2 separate regions of the Homo sapiens genome follow, and region 1 is linked to region 2. Evidence: fine-mapped QTL for protein levels in blood plasma. A gene starts in region 2. The other region holds a variant in brackets. All regions are shown on one strand. Distances are between the middles of the regions. Region 1 overlaps TLR3 (toll like receptor 3). Region 2 holds the start of TLR3 (toll like receptor 3).

What was found. PIP is the chance, under the fine-mapping model, that this variant and not a neighbour inherited with it causes the effect. Protein levels are from antibody-based Olink assays in UK Biobank. Linkage for the fine-mapping came from a reference panel and not from the study's own genotypes, which makes the PIPs less certain.
Region 1: its variant is fine-mapped to the plasma level of the TLR3 protein (UK Biobank, PIP above 0.99). The variant lies in the coding sequence of TLR3. If it changes the protein, the assay may bind it differently, which can mimic a change of level.

The regions. Positions count from the first base shown.
Region 1 is chr4:186,081,199-186,085,567 of GRCh38, reverse strand. It overlaps TLR3 (toll like receptor 3), which reads right to left. Exons shown (of 5, transcript NM_003265.3): 4 at 1,396-3,248; 5 at 1-923. The coding sequence ends at 695. Among named protein-coding and RNA genes, the nearest start is that of TLR3, 14 kb to the right of the region's middle. The variant G/A (reference allele first, on the strand shown) is at 2,648.
Region 2 is chr4:186,066,939-186,071,333 of GRCh38, reverse strand. TLR3 (toll like receptor 3) reads right to left here and starts at 2,178. Exons shown (of 5, transcript NM_003265.3): 1 at 2,086-2,178.

The DNA of each region.
Region 1 (4,369 bases), 14 kb before region 2:
AGCCTGCCTACAATACTTTTAGTAAGAGAATTGTTTCCACCCTCCCACAGCAGAAACTCATAATCTCAGGAAAATACAAGTCAATATTCATTCAAATAATCATCTCATTAACTAATAAAAATGAATTGCAAATGTTTTCTGCCCTTGGGTATGTATATTAAAAAATATTTAACATTTAACAAAGTCAACACTGAGACAAGTACTTACTAAAATACAAAGTTTTTCCATTGAAAAAATACTGTAATTAAACTTGTTAAAAATATGGGTATATATTTTACTCTTTTACAAAGGAAATAGCATTATACCCATTGAAACAATTATCTTTCATTCTAAGTGCATCCAAAATACAAAAAGATCATCACAAACCCTCATATACCTCTAACTTTTCTTAAAATGAGGAATGTTTTCAAACTCCTTAAGCTGTCATAGGCTCAGTGGCTGATTGTATATTAATCAGTAGACAATGTTCTTACGTGCTTATATGTTTTATTTTGGGTAAAATTAAGTCAATTGTCAAAAATAGGCCTGAAATAAGGAGACACATTTTCCTAGAAGAGATGTAATTGTGATAGAATATAATCATTTACAAATATGAATAAACAAATTATAACACCTTTATGGAAAACTTAAATTTGCCATAGAACTTTTTAAATTGAGAAAGTTTCTCCTTTGCTAATTGAATATTTAAATAAATTTAATGTACAGAGTTTTTGGATCCAAGTGCTACTTGCAATTTATGACGAAAGGCACCTATCCGTTCTTTCTGAACTGGCCAGTTCAAGATGCAGTGAGATTTAAACATTCCTCTTCGCAAACAGAGTGCATGGTTCAGTTTATAATCTGGAATCTCCTCAAGGAAAACCAATATAATGGAATCCAGATTTTGTTCAATAGCTTGTTGAACTGCATGATGTACCTTGAATCTAAGTAAAAAAATGTATTGAAGAATTAATATACGGTTTTTAACAGCCAGAAGCAATACTATTTAAAAATACTCTGTAGAGTTTAAACTGTTACTGAAACTCAGGTTTTTTTTTTCTTAATTTTATTTTAAAAATTCTTTGAGTTGTGAGTAATATTGGTAATATTTAAAAGTTTAATTGAAGCTCACCTGAGGCCAGGAGTTCAAGATAAGCCTGGCCAACACGGTGAAACCCCATCTCTAATAAAAATACAAAAATTAGCCAGGCTTGGTGGCGCGTGCCTGTAATCCCAACTACTTGAGAGGCTGAGGCAGGAGAATTACTTGAACCCAGGAGGTGGAGGCTGCAGTAAGCTGAGATCACACCACTGCACTCCAGCCTGGGCAACAGAGCAGGACTCCATCTCAAAAAAAAAAAAAGAAATTTAATTGAAAAGCAAGTACACACTTAAAATTTCACAATGTTTACCTACCTTTTGCATAATGGGTCTTTTAATAGATGGTGTGTTATAACAAAAATAATTTTTCTGCTTCTTTTGATGCTGTTAACAATTGCTTCTAGTTCAAAAACACCCGCCTCAAAGTCCCTTTCTTCCAGACAAAATTTGAGAGATTGGTCTTCCTTTTCCATTGAAGAGAAATGTTCCCAGACCCAATCCTTATCTTTATAGGCATGAATTATATATGCTGCATATTCAAACTGTTCTGTCTGTCTGTCTATTTCTTTGAAACCAAGAACTCGATGTACTGAAACATTCCAATAAAAAGATATCCTCCAGCCCTCAAAGTGGATGAGAAGTACAATAAAGATAAAAATCAACAGGATACTGGTATTGATCATGAAAAAGAGTTCAAAGGGGGCACTGTCTTTGCAAGATGATGTATCAAAAAGTCTCACTGGGAACCCATGATAGTGAGGTGGAGTGTTGCAAAGGTAGTGGCTTGACAGCTCAGGGATGTTGGTATGGGTCTCGTTAATCCAATTAACAAACCAGGCAATACTTTCACACGTGCAATCAAAGGGATTAAAGCGCATATCTAACTCAGTCAGGTTCCTGAAAGCTGGCCCGAAAACCTTCTTCTCAACGGATGTTATGAGATTCTTCTGAAGGTTCAATGACTTTAGAGACACCTGATTATTAAAGACAGATGCTGGAAGTGTGTTTAAATTATTCAATCCTAAATCGATGATCTTTAGTTCAAATAAATCCTTGAAGACCTCAACTGGGATCTCGTCAAAGCCGTTGGACTCCAAGTTAAGGATGTGGAGGTGAGACAGACCCTTTAGGAAATAAATGGGACCACCAGGGTTTGCGTGTTTCCAGAGCCGTGCTAAGTTGTTATGCTGCAAATCGAGAATTTCTAGTTTCTCAAGACCCTCCAACATGTCATCATTTATGTTGGCTATGTTGTTGTTGCTTAGATCCAGAATGGTCAAGTTACGAAGAGGCTGGAATGGTGAAGGAGAGCTATCCACATTTTTAAGGGCCACCCTTCGGAGCATCAGTCGTTGAAGGCTTGGGACCAAGGCAAAGGAGTTCCTAGTCAGCTGCAGGTACTTGTTGTAGGAAAGATAGATTTCGAAAATATTTTCTAGACCTCTCCATTCCTGGCCTGTGAGTTCTTGCCCAATTTCATTAAGGCCCAGGTCAAGTACTTCTAGGTGGCCCAACCAAGAGAAAGCATCACTCTCTATTTTTGAGATTTTATTCTTGGTTAGGTTGA[G/A]TATGTGTAAGGGAGAATGAGCAAGTGATACAAATGTTTCATTTGTCAAAGTTCGCAAACTTGTAAAGGAGTTGGATAGACTTAAGTATTTCAGGTTTATCAATCCTGTGAACATATTGCTTTTTATGCCTGGAATATCATTATCTTCCATGTTAAGGTGCTCCAAACATTTTAGCCACTGAAAAGAAAAATCATCAATCTTGGGGAGTGAGGCAAGGGAAATACTTTGTTTAGTAAAAGACCGTTTCAAATTCAGGTACCTCACATTGAAAAGCCCGTGCAAAGAGTGAGAAAACAAATGCTGTATATTATTATACTCTAGGAAGAAATATTCTAGTTGTGGAAGCCAAGCAAAGGAATCGTTACCAACCACATTTAAGTTGTTGTAGGAAAGATCGAGCATAGTGAGATTTGTCCACTTTAGTCCCAAGAAAGTTGTATTGCTGGTGGTGGACAGCTGGCTGTTACTCAGAGACAGATTCCGAATGCTTGTGTTTGCTAATTCCAAACATAGCTTCTCTGTAAGGCTGGGACCCAGCTGGACATTGTTCAGAAAGAGGCCAAATAATCTTCCAATTGCGTGAAAACACCCTGGAGAAAACTAAAGGTAGGAAAAAAAAAGAGGTTAACAATCAAAAGAACACAGACTCTGTAATGCTGTTGAAAGCCTTTTTTTTTTTTTTTTTTTTTTTTTTTGAGACGGAGTCTCGCTCTGTCGCCCAGGCTGGAGTACAGCAGTGCAATCTCAGCTCACTGCAAACTCCACCTCCTCAGTTCAAGCAATTCTCCTGCCTCAGCCTCCCGAGTAGCTGGGATTACAGGCATGCGCCACCACGTCCAGCTAAGTTTTGTATTTTTAGTAGAGTCGGGGTTTCACCGTGTAGGCCAGGCTGGTCTTGAACTCCTGACCTCATGATCCGCCCGCCTCAGCCTCCCAAAGTGCTGGGATTATAGGCCTGAGCCGCTGCACCCGGCCAGATGCAGTTCTTTACTCCATCTCCGCTCACCCTTCACCACATCCCATGGGCAGAGCATTTCTCCCCCTTCCTGTAATGCACGAGTCCTTCCTTACTCGGTTCCTGCAGCGCCCACCTCTTACTCCAGCCTCTGACCTCCCCTGGCCACGGGCTAACTTCTGCTCAGCATTCACAGCCTCAGCTTAGATGCCACCTTTTCAGGGAGGCTTCTCTGACCTTCCAGTCCAGGATCCATCTCCTGGTACTTTTTCTTTATCACCATGAGAACAATTGCAATGAATAAACTGCTCGTGAAGTCACTCCTGGGGCAGTTCCTGGTTGTGTCTTGGTGCCGCTGTTCTCAGTGAGCCTCATGGAAGGAAGTTGTGGATGGCTTTTATGATGAGGCGGTGACGGCACACTTTCCTTTCTGGAACTCTGAGCTCTAGCTCTCCCTCTCGTCTTTCCACCCGGATTTTCTCCTGACTTTCTTTTACTATCGTGTTTTTCCAGCTCCCTTCTGCTCCGTCCTACACCCTTACCAGAGCCTTGGCTGTTCTGGGACTCACTTCGGGGACAAGAGAACAGCAGGTGGGAGAGGAGGAATCCAGAGAGAATGGAGGCCAGTTCCGGCAGGCAGTCGAAACCGCCAGAGGAGTAAAGGGCTCTGATTTCTTTTTCTTTTTTTTTTTTTTTGAGACAGAGTTTCGCTCTGTCCCCCAGGGTGGAGTGCAGTGGTGCGATCTCAGCTCCCTGCAACCCTTGC
Region 2 (4,395 bases):
TGCTATAGGTCAGAATTGCTGAGAAGGACTAATCCATTACAAAGCATATCCCTGAATGACTTAAGGACTTGCCCCATCTGAAGACATTTCATCAGTGGGCAAAACTCACCAAATGCTAGGCAGGAGGAGTGAAAGAGGAACAAACTTGGAGAGACTCCTATGAAATTTCAGAATTGCAACCATGCACACAAAAATCCTAAAACCTTCATTTCCAAAGAAAAGAGATCTTGATTAATAAAAAACTTTTCATCAGTAACATGAACCACTGGAAAACAATAGAGATAAGCTTTCCAAACATTTAGAGAAAATTATTTTGAATTTAAAATTTCATATCCAGGCAAAGCATAGTGGCTCATCCCCACAATCCCGGCACTTTAGAAGGTGTAGGCAGAAGGAGATCAGGAGCTCAACACCAGCCTGGGCAACATAGTGAGACCCCGTATCTACAAAAATATTTTAGAAAGTAGCCAAGTGTGGTGGCACAAGCCTGTAGTTCCAGCTACTTGGGAGGCTGAGGCAGGAGGATCGCTTGAGCCCAGGAGGTTAAGGCTGCAATGAATCATGATCACACCACTGCACTCCAGCCTGGGCAACAGAGCAAGACCTTACCTCTAAAAAACAAGAAAATTACCTTTGACCAGGCCAAGAAAATTACCTGTGGCTCATGCCTGTAATCCCATCACTTTAGGAAGCTGAGGCTGGAGGATCCCTTGAGCCTAGGAGTTTGGGACCAGCCTGGGCAACACAGGGAAACCTCATCTCCACCAAAATTTTTTTTTAAATTAGCTGGCCATAGTGGTTCACACCTGTGGTCCCAGCTACTCGTGACACTGAGGTGTGAGAATTGCTTGAGCCAGGGAGGTCAAGGCTGCAGTGAGCCACGATCATGCCACTGTACTTCAGCCTGGGCAACACAGCGAGACCTTGTCTCTAAATCGATAAATGAAATAAAATGAAATAAAATAAAATAAAATAAGATAGGGAAATTTCACATCCATCTGAATAACTAAATAAAAAGGTATAAGTATTTTGAGATATGCAAAAATTCAGTAAGTTTATAGCCATACGATCTGTATGAAAAGGTTATTCTAGGACATGCTTCAGTAAAACAAGCAAAAATGCAGTTAAAGGATGAAATGAGAGTGAAGAAAACGTTGCTGTTGAATGAGATCTAGCAGAAATAAAGAAAATGAAAAAAAATTAAAAAGAGACTCACTCAGCCTTAGAATTTTGGAAATATTTTGTGAGGGCACATGGAATTCACATTCTTTGTCCAAGTGAGAGACAATATTGCCTGATGGTTAGGACATGGGGTCTGGAGGCAGACTACCTGGAGTTAACCACTATCCATAGTTTGATTTGTAAACTTTGCAACCTTTGTAGTAGGTTCATACACAGGCACGCCCATATGAAGACACATACCAGCACGTAATCATCTGTAAACCTGGGAATCAACTTGCTGAAGCCAACTCCATTTTTACCCGAGTACCCCACAATTGCCGATACCAGTTTCTGATCTTCCCATACACCTTAACAACTTTCCACTTCTCCACTTCTTCCATTATCCTTCATTAGGTGAAAGAAAGCCATTTACTTACTCCTAGGCATACCTGAATGTTCTCTCCTATCTAAGACATTGTCATACAATGCCAGCTCCTGTCTCCCCTCCAGCCAATAAAACTAACAAAAGGGGATACGCTCTTTTAACCTCTTGGAGTTTTGTTTCTTTAAGGCAAAGATGTGATTTGCTAAAAAGACTGTTGCAAAATGATTTCCATAGCTTCCCTAATGTGTTTTTTCCAGGTACAGAATGCTACAGAGAAAAAAATTAAATACTGCATAAATACATTATCACATTAACTAGATATTGGTGCTATTACTTGTGTTCTGAGTTATACCCTTCTCCCATGCCCATATCATATCCCTTTTCTTCCACTTTCCTTCCTGAATAATTCTGACTAGATTTCAAGCACCAGATCAAAGAAAGACCAAAGAAGGCTAAAACCACATGCATTCTGCTAGCAAACTCTACTCAGCAAGAGAGACCCTGCCCAGTAAGAACGTGAAATGAACACCTTCACTTACTTGGATGACTGCTAGCCTTTCCTTTTTTCTTTAGTCCAAATCCAGACATTTCATCAGGGAAGTGTGTGGCAAATAGACGGCACTCTCGAAAGTGAAAGTAAAGCTTGAAAAAAAATGCTTTTATGTTTGGTGCATTCCAAGAAGGGCAAAGGGAGAAAACAAAAACAATCTCTGACAACCTCAGAGAGGCGTTTCAAACCGCCTCTGAAAAACACCTAGTTTTTATTTTATTTTAACTTTTTTTAAGCTGAGATCCTTGGATTTCATTGAAAGGGTCACAGATTTAGCAACAGCTAAAGTTGAAAGTGGGGACCTCACCATTTGATGTGGGCGGGTCTGGACCTCTGCAAGTTAAGGAATAACAGTGAATCCCTCAATTTTCTGCTAGACTCATGCGAAGCTGTCAGAATTGAGTAGTGTATGGTCACAGGGACAGAAAAAAAAATCCCTAATCAAAGCTGAAGTACTTTCCCTTCTTTCGTCTGGCTTTTATCTCTTTGCAACACTGTAAAATAACACCGGCAGAAATTAACCTCTTGATCCAGGAAGAAACTGAGTTTCACAGCAGAGAAAGAGCCAAACATGGCAAAGCTGAGAGCCAGTCCCACTCCTGCTGATCCACTTTTCCACGGTCAGACGCGTTAGGGAACAGATCAGTATGCCCAGAAAAGTTCAGATTAACTAAGAATTTCGTTCTTAATTTGCTTTAATGACTCCAACTAGTTAAGTAAATGTACTTGTTAAGAAATGAACTCACTTTTTTTCATTACAGATGTGCTATGATCTATTATAACTATATTGTTATATAGTGAAATATCACAATTGGAAGGAACTATAGACCACCTAATCTAACTCCCTTGTTTGAGAAATTAGGAAAACGAAACCTAGGGAGGTGAGTGGTTTGCCTAAGAACATGCCACAAGCCACCATATGCTTCAATCACACAAGTCATAAAACAACTGGACGGCTGGGACATGGCATTAGCTTGAACTCATTGCAGAGCTGATGGCAAGAAACAAGCGTGCATCATGGTGCAAAGTGCCCTCTTGTGGGCTCCAGCTTCAGCTAGACCGCTTTATAGTTACTGGGCTCAGGGCTACATGTCTCTGATTTTCATTTGTGACATCTGTAACATAACACCATAAGCAAACAGATGTCCTGAGTACGTGACTGTCCCTCACATCTATCCATTGGGATGTCCAGGAAAACTTCACTAATATTCAAAAGATTTCTTCTCTGTGAGCGCCTTGAAGGCAGGGTGAGGTTTATTCTTTGCATTATAGCTCCCCAGCAACCCTCTGAGGTAGACTGTTTCTTTGGCCTTCAATGAAAGAGACTCGTCCTCAGAATTCAAACCCTTGTGTGGCCTTCTCCCACGCTGACTCTAGGCTTGGCCATTTGACTAGCTTTGACCAGTGGGATATTAGCAAGCATGCAACAAGGTCTCATTGCCAAACACGATTACCCAGGCTTGAGAAGCAAGCAAATAAATGATTGTTGTTTTAAATTTAAAAAAATTGGAATGGTGTCATATGCATTATTAGCGAAATAAAACACATCATCTCAACAATCCTTCATACCTATCCCTTATGCCTTATGACTCCTTATACAGATTAAATTTCCCACGACTTTGGTTGACTAATGAATGGCTCTCGATAAATAAATTTTATTGATGGTCTCCTGATGCAGTAGTTTGGGCTTAATACCAGTTCATATTCAGATATTATTAGTCCTTAATTCTTGCTAGTTTCTAAATACAACACAGATTGTTTTCTCTCTACTGTACATTTCTTAACTATGTGCATTAACTTATTTAGCTATGATGGTGATTGGAGCAATAGTGAAAAACCTCATTTTTCCCCTTTTTAAAAGAATTAAGGCTGGGAGCAGTGGATCATGCCTGTAATCCCAACACTTTAGGAGATTGCTTGAGCCTAGGAGTTCAAGACCAACCTGGGCAACGTGGTAAAACTCCATCTCTACAAAAATTACAAAAATTAGCTGGGCATGTTGGTGCATGCCTATAGTCTCAGCTACTTGGGAGGCTGAGGTGGGAGGATCACTTGAGTCCAGGCAAATTCAAGTTTGCATTGAGTCATGAGTGCGCCACTGCACTCCAGCCTGGGTAACAGAGGGAGACCCTGTCTCAAAAAAAGAGAGAGAGAGAATTAAAAAAAAATGTATGCCCATAAATGTAAAATAACAAATTTAGTAAACACTGATATTTCACAGCATTACAGATCAGCCAATCTCAGAATAATGGGAAGCTGTATATTCCCAGCAAAACAGAGATCTACAGAATTCTAGAAG